Regions from separate parts of the Homo sapiens genome. Here all the other regions are linked to region 3. Evidence: fine-mapped expression QTL. A gene starts in region 3. Each other region holds a variant in brackets. All regions are shown on one strand. Distances are between the middles of the regions. Region 1 overlaps AQR (aquarius intron-binding spliceosomal factor). Region 2 has its middle 53 kb from the start of ACTC1. Region 3 holds the start of AQR (aquarius intron-binding spliceosomal factor).

Evidence for each region. PIP is the estimated chance that this variant, and not a neighbour inherited with it, causes the effect. A credible set is the group of variants that fine-mapping cannot tell apart.
Region 1: its variant is the best candidate, but not a certain one, in a credible set for the expression of AQR in subcutaneous fat (GTEx, PIP 0.63).
Region 2: its variant is the best candidate, but not a certain one, in a credible set for the expression of AQR in monocytes (TOPMed, PIP 0.54).

Annotation. Positions count from the first base shown.
Region 1 is chr15:34,936,969-34,941,210 of GRCh38, reverse strand. AQR (aquarius intron-binding spliceosomal factor) reads left to right here. Exons shown (of 35, transcript NM_014691.3): 8 at 212-312; 9 at 2,398-2,474. Among named protein-coding and RNA genes, the nearest start is that of AQR, 31 kb to the left of the region's middle. The variant T/ACTAT (reference allele first, on the strand shown) is at 2,478.
Region 2 is chr15:34,846,886-34,851,127 of GRCh38, reverse strand. It overlaps the pseudogene TUBAP11. Among named protein-coding and RNA genes, the nearest start is that of ACTC1, 53 kb to the right of the region's middle. The variant G/A (reference allele first, on the strand shown) is at 2,350.
Region 3 is chr15:34,967,396-34,971,637 of GRCh38, reverse strand. It overlaps AQR (aquarius intron-binding spliceosomal factor), which reads left to right and starts at 1,896. Exons shown (of 35, transcript NM_014691.3): 1 at 1,896-2,099. The coding sequence starts at 2,025. RefSeq lists enhancers at 1,793-1,902, 1,953-2,102, 3,271-3,835.

The DNA.
Region 1 (4,242 bases), 30 kb after region 3:
GTATTTTTATTAACAAGAGCTAGAGTTGAATAATTTTTTAAAATATCGTTATTCATTTCTTAATTTTCAGGGTTTGTCATGTTATTTTCAGGTTTTATCAGATTGCTCTATTTTGTACTCATATATTAGAAAACTAGCAAATAGTTGATCTAATCCTTATCCTTGTAAACTTTGAGGCTACTGGTAATTTAATAACACATCTCTTCTTCAGGCACGATTGGAATTAGAATTAAAAAAGACACCTAAGCTAAGAAAATTCTGGAACTTGATTAAAAAGAATGATGAAAAGATGGATCCAGAAGCAAGAGAACAGTATGTTGGCAGAGCTTCATTTCATGTTGGCTTATTATGCTGGATTGTGGACCTTAGATGATGTTGACTGGTTTGTTGTTTCCCTTTATATAGTGCTGAGTGCAAATAAATTATTATAATAAGTGCTTTTACCTAGACTGTCATTAAGAATATTTTCCACAAAGATCTAAAGCAGAAGCCAGAGCATCATGCTTTTCTTCTTTTCCTTCTTTCTGTGCTGCTAAGTATATATAGTTGACCCACTGTTTTTCTCCCTGCCTATTGTCCGTCTCCCTCATGGATGGTTCTCAATTTTCTCCACTATCTTCAGGCTATTAATATAACTTCTCTTTCTTTTTCTTACTCCTTCACTCTTTTTTTATTTTTTTGAGACGGAGTTTCGCTCTTGTTGCCCAGGCTGGAGTGCAATAGTGCGACTGTGGCTCACTGCAACCTCTGCCTCCCAGATTCAAGCGATTTCTCTTGCCCCAGCCTCTGAGTAGAGGGGATTACAGGCATGCGCCACCACGCCTGGCTAATTTTGTATTTTTAATAGAGACAGGGTTTCTCCATGTTGGTCAGGCTGGTCTCAAACTCCCGACCTTAGGTGATCCGCCTGCCTCGGCCTCCTAAAGTGCTGGGGATTACAGGCGTGAGCCACTGCACCCAGCCTAACTCTAAACTTCTTACAAGGTTTTCAGAAGCTTGCAGCTGTTTCTTGTGACTCTTGCAAATCACTGGACTACTCTAGTCATTGCTTCTTTAGCATTTCTTTCCTAAGTCCCTTTCCTCTTCACTCCACTTAATTGAATATTAACCATATAAACACTCTTCCAGACCAACTACTTTAGATCATAGTGCTTTCATCTGAACTCCTAGAACACATGCTCTGTGATTTTTTTTTGAAACACCAGCTGTTTATGTAATGATTGGGATATGTATAGTAGTTGAGGATGTAGGTTCTACAATCAGACTTAGCTAGATTCCACACTCAATTGCTGTATGACTTTGGGCAAGTTACTTCACCTCTAAGCCTCATTGTGAAATCTGGACAGTAGTACCCATTTCCGAGGACTGTTATCAATATTAAATAAGATGTGAAGTGTTTAGCATAGCTCAGATCCTGGCAAAATGCGTGCTTAATTAATGTCAGGCAGTTTTATTAATCACATACTGGCATGTATTACTAATTGTGTTTATAATATATGACTTGTTATTGCAAGTAGATTTTAGCCGTTCCCCTTCTTTGTATTTCCAGCAGGACTGTTACAAGCATTTACAGCTGTACGATACTTGATACATGTCTGTTCATTAATGGATATATCTTAAAGTAGTAATGAATAGAAAATTATTTTTTAAACATTTGATCTTTAGCTATTGTAATACTCTATTATACTTAAACGTTAAAATATAATATTGTTCATCTCATTTTAACTACATTAAATGTGAGATTTTTAATGGTAAGGGCAGACTATAAATGGAATTTTGAAACTTCTTTCTCGGTCTGACTTGTAAATCACAAATGAAAATGTTTGGCTGGGAGCTGTGTCTCAGGCTGGGCGCCATGGCTCATGCCTGTAATCCCAGCACTTTGGGAGGCCGAGGCGGGTGGACCACAAGGTCAGGAGTTCAAGAACACCCTGGCCAAGATGGTGGAACCGCATCTCTACTGAAAATACAAAAATTAGCCAGGCATGGTGGCAGGCGCCTGTCATCCCAGCTACTCGAGAGGCTGAGGCAAGAGAGTTGCTTCAACCTGGGAGGCAGAGGTTGCAGTGAGCTGAAATCGCGCCACTGCACTCCAGCCTGGGCAACAGAGCGAGATTCCACCTCAAAAACAAAAAAAGCAGAAAAAAGAAAACGTTCACGGTGAGAGAAGGAGGTGCTTGCTTAGGTGGCTTATTAGGTCAGTAATGTGACTCTCCTTTTCTTCATATAGCACTGTATTTACATAGAAAGAAGAAGCTGTATATTGAAGTTATAGTCCCAGCTTCACAAAGAAATGAACAGTTGAACAATATTGGAAAGCCGTGGTCAACATTTAAAGTTTACTTTTGAAATGACTATTCTTCAAAAATAATTGGTCAATGTTCTTTCTGATTTTAGGGCATATCAAGAGAGGAGATTTCTTTCACAACTCATCCAGAAGTTTATCTCTGTGCTGAAATCAGTCCCACTTTCTGGTA[T/ACTAT]CTTCTTTTTTACTCAGTGCATTTGTGAAATTATCATATAGCTGCCCCTATGGTATTTACTCATCTCTAATCTAAAAACTGTTCTTGGAATGATTTTAAATTGTATTGGCAAAGTGTATGTCCTCTCCTTTTTAAATACATTACCAGTGTGAGTATTGGGACTGCCTTTAAGGGTTATTTTATTTTATTTATTTATTTTTTGAGACAGAGTGTTGCTCTGTCACCCAGGCTAGAGTGCAGTGGCATGATCTCGGCTCACTGCAACCTCCCCCAGCAGGGTTCCAGTGATTCTCCTGCCTCAGCCTCCCGAGTAGCTGGGATTACAGGGATGCACCACCATGCCCAGTTAGTTTTGTATTTTTGGTAGAGACGGGGTTTCTCCATGTTGGCCAGGCTGGTCTCAAACTCCTGACCTCAAGTGATCCATCCACCTCAGCCTCTCAAAGTGCTGGGATTACAGGCGTGAGCCACTGCACCTGGCCTAAGGGTTATTTTAAAGGCACCAGTGTGGTTATTGAAATATTCCTTTATGTAGCAAATTTTTTATCACCTAATTACTAGATCCAGGTCCTGTCTAAGGTGCTGGGATACAGTTGTGAAGAGGAAAATTACAGACCATATTTGCATGTTATTTATAATATGGTGCTGAATAGTGTTTTTAAGTCCTATTGATACCGTTGGAGGAAAAAAGGAGAAATATTACTGAGATATGAGCTAAAAGACTAAATAGAAGGATTTTCCTCCATCATAGCTCCATTTACTGATTTAAAAAGTAAGTATATATATATACTATATTAAAATTATAAAATATAATTAAAATATAATTGTTTAATTATTATTATTTTTTTTTGAGACAGAGTGTCACTCTGTCAGCCAGGATGGAGTGCAGTGGCACAATCTTGGCTCACTGCAACCTCCGTCTCCTGGGATCAAGCAATTCTCCTGCCTCAGCCTCCTGAGTAGCTGGAGTTACAGGCGTGTGCCACCACGCCCGGCTAATTTTTGTATTTTTAGTAGAGACGAGGTTTTACCATGTTGGCCAGGCTGGTCTCGAACTCCTGACCTCAGGCAGTCTGCCTGCCTCGGCCTCCCAAAGCGCTGGGATCACAGGCGTGAGCCACCACGCTTGGCCAATTGTTTAATATTTTTAAGTGGAATATAATCTAAGAACAGCTCTATAGGTATACCATATTTATATAGGTATACCATATTTATATTTTTGCATCAGAAAGTACAGCTTTTAAAAAAACACAATGGAATGAGTTATAAATGCTGACCCTCCAAGTAATATTTTACAATTGAAAATCTTAGCTACGATTCAGTGAGGAATTGATACCAATGCAGTAAATCAGTTGTATCTGACTTAGGGCACAGTACTACTACTAGCATTAGTATAAAGAAAATGTTTTGGCCGGGCGCAGTGGCTCATGCCTGTAATCCCAGCACTTTGGGAGGCTGAGGTGGGTGGATCACGAGGTCAGGAGATCGAGACCACAGTGAAACCCCGTTTCTACTAAAAAGACAAAAAATTAGCCAGGCGCAGTGGCAGGCACCTGTAGTCCCAGCTACTCAGGAGGCTGAGGCAGGAGAATGGTGTGAACCCAGGAGGTGGAGCTTGCAGTGAGCCGAGATTGTGCCACTGCACTCCAGCCTGGGTGACAGAACAAAACTCAGTCTCAAAAAAGAAAAGAAAGAAAACGTTTTATGCTTATAATCTTAAGTCTCTTAATGTTAGTATATCTAAATCTTTCCACTAAGTGCCTTC
Region 2 (4,242 bases), 120 kb after region 3:
TGTTAATTTGCATGCCATTTAGTTGGTTGACTACTTTTCACAGAAGTGAATTGAATTCAATATAATAAAACTTTTGAAGATGTTTATGAAACTAATATTTGTATATCAACAGACTATTGAATGCCAACTCTGTGCCAGGCAGCAATGCCAAAAACAACTCTAGTACTTTATAGATGAGAACACCAAGGCATTGGGTGATTTGCCTGGGACACCACAATTAATTGAACAGGGACTAGAACCATCATGTAACTTTTAGGCAAATTTCTTACCATGCTGCCCTTTAAATTTCTTTGCTTGAGACACATTAAAGAACAGAACAACACCAACTGTGCATGAGTAAGACAAGCCTACTAAATAATTTCTCTTATGGTCAATATACCAAAAAGACTAGGTTGCCAAAATCAGGGTAGAAAATAAAAGGTCTCTAAAAAGAATGTCCCAATGTTTACAATATTTATTCTTACAGGAGAAAGACAAATTAGTATTTGTTTTGGTTTGAAAAAGGAATGAGAAACACATAATAGAAAGGGACTCTGGTAAGTAATACTGTATGCCTAAAAATGCTAATTATCCTAAAGTCATTTTATATTTAAGCAGAAGCAGAACATGTTAAGTAATAATAGTTTTAAAAGTGTGATTTCTGAGTGTGTTACCTTGACTCAGCTTCTCAGGAGAAGTGACCGGGACCTGGTGTCTGCTCCTGTTGCCTTTGTCTCTTAATCCCTAGCCACTATGCGTGAGCACATCTCCATCCACGTTGGCCGGGCTGATGGCCAGATTGATAATCCCTGCTCAGAGCTCTGCGGCCTGGAACACGGCATGCAGCCCGATGGCCAGGTGCCAAGTGACAAGACCACTCGGGGAGATGACTCCTTTAACATCTTCGGTGAGACAGGTGCTGGCAAGCATAAGCCCAGGGCAGTGTTTGTAGACCTGGAGCCCACATTCATTGACAAAATTCACGTTGCCATCTACCACTAGCTCTTCCACCCTGAGCAGCTCATCACAGGCAAGGAAGATGCTGCCAATAACTATGCCCAAGGGCACTATACTATTGGCGAGGAGATCACTGGCCTCATGTTGGACCAAATTCTCAAGCTGGCCAACCAGTGCACAAGTCTTCAGGGCTTCTTGGTTTTCCATAGCTTTGGTTGGGGAACTGGTTCTGGGTTCACCTCCCTGCTGATAGAATGTCTGTCTCTTCATTATGGCAAGAAGTCAAAGTTGGAGTTCATTTACTCAGTGTCCCAGGTTTCCAAAGCTGTAGTTGAGCCCTATAGCTCCATTCTCACCACCCACACTACCCTGGAGCGCTCTGAGTGTTCCTTTGTGGTAGACATCTGTCATAGAAATCTCAATATTGATTGCTCAACCTATCAATAGCTAGTGAAGTCTCTTTAACTTTAACTGCCTTATTCATCAGTTTATGCCCTCTATGCTTCCCTTAGAGTTGATGGCTTCCTGAATGCTGATCCCTGTTATCTCTGCTGAGAAAGCCTATCATGAAGAGCTTTAGAGCAGAGATCATCAATGCTTGATTTGAGCCAGCCAACCAGATGATGAAATGTGACCTTCGCCATGGCAAATGATGGCTTCCTGCCTGTTGCACTGTGGTGACACCATAAAGATGTCAATGCTGCTTTACCACCATAAAGACCAAGCACAATATCCAGTGTGTGGATTGGTGTCCCACTGGTTTCAAGGTTGGCATTAGTTACGAGCTTCCCATGGTGGTACCTGGTGGAGACCTGGCCAAGATACAGAGAGCTGTGTGCATGCTGAGCAATACCACAGCCTTTGCTGAGACCTGGGCTCACCTGGACCACAAGTTTTGACCTGGTGTATGCCAACCATGCCTTTGTTCACTGGTACATTCGTGAGGGGGGCATAGAAGAAGGGTTTTCTGAGGCCCAATGAGGACATGGCTGCCCTTGAGAAGGTTTATGAGGAGGTTGGTATAGATTCTGTTAAAGGAGAGGGAGAGAAAGAGGAGAGAAATATTAATTATCCATTCCTTCCATCCCTGCAACATGTCTTACTCCCAGAATTTAAGCTTCAACATTAATTGACAGGCATCAAAGCTTTCTGGTTAGATTGTTTACACTCAGTGGAGATCAATGTTCCATCTGTACCTGTAAGATTATTGGCCTTTTGAAGGCCTCCAGTACAATGCTGAAAAGAGGTAGTCAGAACAAGTATCTTTGTTTCTTCCCAGTTTTAGGAGCAAACTTTCAATATTTCACCACTAAGTATAGTGTTTGCTATAGGTTTTTGCATACACTCTGTATCAGGTTTTAAGAACTTCTTTCTATTCCTAGCTTGCTAGGTGTTTCTTTTTTAATCATTAAC[G/A]TATGCTGAATTCTAACAAATGCTTTTTCTATATCTATCAAAATGATCGTATGCTTTCCTTTATTTATTTATTTTTATTTTACTTTAAGTTCTGGGATACCTGTGCTGAACGTGCAGGTTTGTACATGTGCCATAGTGGTTTGCTGCACCCATCAACCCGTCATCTAGGTTTTAAGCTCCCCATGCATTAGGTATTTGTCCCAATTCTCTCTCTCCCCAATCATATGCTTTTCTTTATTTTGTTAATGTGGTGGATTACATTGATTTATTTTTTCTATCGATTGAATTTTTTCTAATTAGGGCCATAAGTTGCTACTCTTCACATGCCTGGTAATTTTTCACTGGATGCTGGACATTACAAGTGCTGTGTTGTTGGATGTTTGGATTTTGTTGTCTTCCTTTAAAGAGTGTTGAGGTTTGTTTTGGCAGGCAGTTACATGTGGATTAGATCTACCTTTTTGATGTTTGTTTTTAAGCTTTGTTACACAGGTGTAGAGTACCTTTACTCTAGGGCTAACTTAGCTCTATTACCAAGCTATGACCCTTCTCTGGCCCCTTTTGGATGCCCCAGGTTTTCAATGAAGTATTTCTACTTGGGTTGATATAAATTAAAACCTTTTCTATTGTATGAGCTCTAGGAATTGTTTAGTAGAGCTCCCAGGCAGTTGTCCTTTGACCTCATGAAGTTTCACCCCATGCATGTACAGATTAGTATTCAGCCAAGACTCAAGGGGACCCCTCTTTAGATTTCTGGAGACCTTTCTTTGTGTAACTTCCTCCTTTTAGTTACTATCCCTTACAAATTCTAGCCAGCACAGTCTTCCCAAGTTTCTGTCTCTTAAATTCAGTGAGACTGCTGGGCTTCTACTTAGGTTCCCCCTAGGTAAAGGCAAACTGTGCTGCTCTTCAAAAATTGCCTGTAGGCAAAAGCCAGGGCAATCACAGGGCTAACCTTTTTCCTTTTCTTCCTCTCCAGGATGACGAAACTATGCTGCCTGTTGGTCAATGTCTGAAAATAGTTGCTTCATATATTTTGTCCACTTTTACTTGATTATAGTGGGATGTACTGGGATGAGCAGAAGTAGAAGTTGACTTTTTTTTTTTCAATTAATATAAAATTAACCTTACAATCCTAATCTTTTTTTATAAGTGCTATATTACATTTGCTAGTATTTTATTTGGCATTCTTGCATTTATGTTTATGAGAAAGATTGGTCTATCAGAATAATAATTATTATTATTGTACCATACTTGTCAGGTTAAATATCAAGATTAGAGTGACTTCATAAACTGAATTGAGAAATTGAGAAGTCCTTTTTTTTTTTTTTTTTTTTTTTTTGAGACGAGGTCTCATTCTGTGGCCCAGGCTGGAGAGCAATGGTGCAATTTTGGCTCACTGCAACCTCCACCTCCTGGGCTCAAGTGATCCTCCCACATCAGCCTCCCAAGTAGCTGGGACTACAGGTGCACACCACCATGCCTGGCTAATTTTTGTATTTTTTGTAGAGACAGAGTTTCACCATGTTGCCCAGGCTGGTCTCAAACTCCTGGACTCAAGAAATCTGCCTACCTTGGCCTCCCAAAGTGCTGGGATTACAGGCAGCAGGGGGTTTGTTGTTGTTGTTGTTGTTGTTTTTTGAGTACTCTATTTTTATTCACTGGAAGTGTTTTTTGTAACATTGATATTATTTCTTCTTTAAACACTTGGAAGAATTCAACAGTGAAACAATCTAAGGCTAGATTTCTTTGTGGGAAGATTTTAAATTTCAGATTCAATGTATTTATCAATGTAAGACTACACTATTTCTTCTTGTGTTGGATTTGATAAGTTGTGTTATCTTAGGAATTTGTCCATTATAAAGCTGAATTTTCCGATTTATATTGGGAAAAGTA
Region 3 (4,242 bases):
CTGATGTGAATGTAAAATAGTACTACTTTAGAAAGATGGCAGTTTCTAAAAACTTAAACATATACTTGCCGGGTGCAGTGGCTTATGCCTGTAATCCCAGCACTTTGGGAGGTCAAAGTGGGCAGATCACGAGCTTAGGAGTTCAAGACCAGCCTGACCAACATGGTGAAACCCCGTCTCTACTAAAAATACAAAAACTAGTCAGGTGTGATGGCGCGTTGCCTGTAATCCCAGCTACTCAGGAGCCTGAGGCAGGAGAATCTCTTGATCCCAGGAGGCAGAGGTTGCAGTGATCCGAGATCACGCCATTGCACTCCAGCCCGGGCGACAGAGCAAGACTCCATCTCAAACAAACAACAAACAAACAAACACACCTATCGTATAACCCAAATATTTCACTCCTAAGTATTTAAGAGCAAAGGAAGTATATGTCCACATGAAGACTTATACACAAATGCTCATAGTGGCTTTATTTGTAATAACTGAGAACTTGGAACAACTCAAATGTCTATCAGCAGATGAATAGTTTATCAAACTGTGGTATATCAGTAAAATGGAACGAATGTTAAGCAATAAAAAAGGAATGAACTACTGATACATGCAACAACATGAATCCATCTCAAAATCATTTCGTTGAGTGAAAGAAGGCATGCACTGTATTATTTCATTTATATAAAATTCCATGAAAAGCAAACTATAGTGACAGAAAGCAGATCAGTGGTTGCCTGAAAAGTGGGTGGGAACAGTGAAAGGCACAGATAGCAAAAGTTCACGAGGAAACTTTTAGAGGCTTTGATATGCTCATTATGATTTTGGCAATAGTTTCACAAATGTATGTTCATGTCAAAACGCATCAAATTTTACAACCTAAATATGTGTGGGTTATTGTATGTGAATTATTTTTATTATTATTTTATTTTTATTTTTTGAGGCTAGTCTCGCTCTGTCACCAAGCTGGAGTGCAATGGCGCAATCTCGGCTCACTGCAACCTCCGCCTCCCAGCTTCAAGTGATTATTCTCCTGAATCCGAGTAGCTGGAACTACAGGCGCGCGCCACCACGCCCGGCTAAATTTTGTTTTTTAGTAGAGATGGGTTTTCACCATGTTAGCCAGGCTGGTCTCAAACTCCTGACCTCAGGCAATCGGCCAGCTTCAGCCTCCCAAAACGCTGGGATTACAGGCGTGACTACCGCGCCTGGCTGGGTTATTGTATGTCAATTTTTACCTCCATAAAACTGTTAAGGCCTGTAATCCCTGCACTTTGGGACCCTGAGGCAGGCGGATTACCTAAAGTTGGTGAGTTCGAGACCAGCCTGACCAATACGGAGAAACCCTGTGTCTACTAAAAATACAAAAATTAGCTGTGCATGGTGGCGCATGCCTGTAATCCCAACAACACGGGAGGCTGAGGCAGGAGAATCGCTTGAACCCGGGAGGCAGAGGTTGCTGTGAGCCGAGATTGCACCATTGCATTGCAGCCTGGGCAACAAGAGCGAAACTCCGTCTCAAAAAAAACAAAACTAAACTAAAACACTGTTAAGGGCAGTTAAAACCCAGCCCATATTCCCAGGCTGTTTTTTTTGTTTTGTTTTGTTTTTTCTTTAGGGTTGAAAAAAAACTAAATCCCCATTCACCGCACACGGCACTCTTCACTAACCACGAGAAACCCCACCCAACACCATCCACCGGGTCCCTCCCTTGCCCTCCTAATCCCGCCAGCGAGGTGTCTTCTCTCTGCCGCCCGCTAGAGGGCGTGTACAGAGGAGGTCAAAGCTCTTGGCTCGCTAGCTCAGCCCCAACGCCTGCATGAACTTCCGGCTACACGCCATTCCGCTTCCCGAGGAACGCTTGGGCTGTTGTACGGGTTCCCTACGGGACTCTGAAGGCTGAGGATATCCGGCCCGGAGCGTTTGTGCGGCGCGGAGTTAAGCGCCCCGGCAGTAACTTAAGGGAAGTGGACCAGGGTTGCCGCTGCCCAGAGCGGTCCTTTAGTTTCCACTGGAGTGGAGGGAAGAGTGCTGCCATGGCAGCCCCTGCGCAGCCCAAGAAGATCGTGGCCCCTACGGTGTCCCAAATCAATGCGGAGTTCGTGACCCAGGTGAGCTCGGGCGAGTCTGGTGTGTGTGAGTGGGTATGGACGTCGTGGCCCCGAGGCCTGGTGGTGGGGTTTTTTTTCAGGATTTAGGAGTCCGGAGGAGGCATTCGTTTGTTAATTGATTCACACACGTCTTTTTACTGAGTATCAGCTCCGTGCCGGCCACTATGCTAGGTGCTGGGCATACCGTGGTGAAAGAAGCTGCCCTGCCCTGGGGAGTTCATGGCCCAAGGAAGACAGACGCATGAAAATAAAACTACTGTATGAGTTTTGCTGTGTTGGAGTTTGTCTCAGGAGCAATGGATTCAGAGAGGAGGGAACACCCCAGTCTATCTGAGACTGGCAAGTAGGCTTCGCAGCAGAGTGATGCTGGACTGCCTCTTCAAGTAGGAGTAGGCTTTTTCCTGGTCCTTAGAGTGTCCTGAGTTTTTGAGCAGCGATGAGAAACTGACAAGACACCTCCAAATAGACCTATCTAAAAACAGAGTAATTCTGTAGTTTGAGAGCGTTCATTTAGAATCTGTTTACTATCTTGCATTGTGAGCCACAGTTGGCTTTGGATAGGGAACCACAGTCCTGTGGTTGTCAGCATCATTCCTCATTCTTATTATTTATTTGTGAATTGCATAAGAGTGTAAGTAGTTCAATGTAGAAGTTATCATGCCCACCTGCTTCTTTATTCTTTATTCCTTGTCTCAACAGATTTGCCAGGGCAGAAGCCTAGGGAGTGATTTTGAATCCTCCCTTTCCCTTAGTCCCTACATTTCTACATTCTAAATATCTTTTGAATCTATCTGGTGTTCTACATCTCTGTCACCCTAAGCTTGGTTGCCATTGTTTTCTGCCTGGACCAAGGTATCGTAATCTGTTATATTGTCCTTCCTCTTGCTCTGCTCTAGCCCATTCTTCATGTTGCTTTCCGAGTGATTTCATACAAGTGCAAATCTCATCATATCACTTGCCTTCTTAAAATTTCTGCCTTCCGGCCGGGCGCAGGGGCTCACGCCTGTAATCCCAGCACTTTGGGAGGCCGAGGCGGGCGGATCACGAGGTCAGGAGATCGAGACCATCCTGGCTAACACGGTGAAACCCCGTCTCTACTAAAAATAAAAAGAAAAAAAATTAGCCGGGCATGGTGGCAGGTGCCTTTGGTCCCAGCTACTCGGGAGGCTGAGGCAGGAGAATGGCGTGAACCCGGGAGGCGGAGCTTGCAGTGAGCCGAGATCGCGCCACTGCACTCCAGCCTGGGCAACAGTGCGAGACTCCGTCTCAAAAAAAAAAAAAAATCTCTTCCTTCCTTTCCTTCCTTTTCTTCTTTCAAGATAGGGTCTCACTATGTTGGCTGGGCTCCAGTGAGCCTTCCACCTCAGCCTCCCTTGTAGCTAGGACTACAGGGACTACACTAAGGCTGGCTGTCCTTAAAATCTTCAGCCGGGCGCGATGGCTCATGCCTGTAATCCCAGCACTTTGGGAGGCCGTGGCAGGTCGATCACCTGAGGTCGGGAGTTCGAGACCAGCCTGACCAACATGGAGAAACCCTGTCTCTACTAAAAATACAAAAGTAGGCAGGCTTGGTGGTGCATGCCTGTAATCCCAGCTACTCGGGAGGCTGAGGCAGGAGAATTGCTTGAACCCGGGAGGCGGAGGTTGCAATGAGCCAAGATCGCACCATTGCACTCCAGCCTGGGCAACAAGAGCAAAACTCCGTCTAAAAACGAAGCAAAAAAAAAGAAATCTTTAAAGAATTCTAATTACCCTTAGGTTAACGGCTGAAATCCTTCATAGTGTTGTGTGATTTGACCTGTGCTTATATCTTCAGTTTCCTCTTTTTCCTCTTCCTTTCTAACTCTGTGCCTTAGCTGTACAGAACTTCGTTTATTTGAATGTGCCATGCTATCTTTCATCTCCTGGCTTTTCAACATTGTTCCTCTGCTAGGAATCCTCATTTTTTTTCTCCCCACCTTCCTTTATTCATTCTCAGCCTTCTACACTACTTTAGAGAGGCTTTTCCTGACAACTTAAACGAGATTAGAGGTCTCTTTCCCCATATACCTGCATTTTTGCAGTAGAAGTCATTTATTAGTTTACTTCTGTCATGGAACTCACATTTTAGAGGGAAGAACCAGACAGATGAACGGTATAGTTT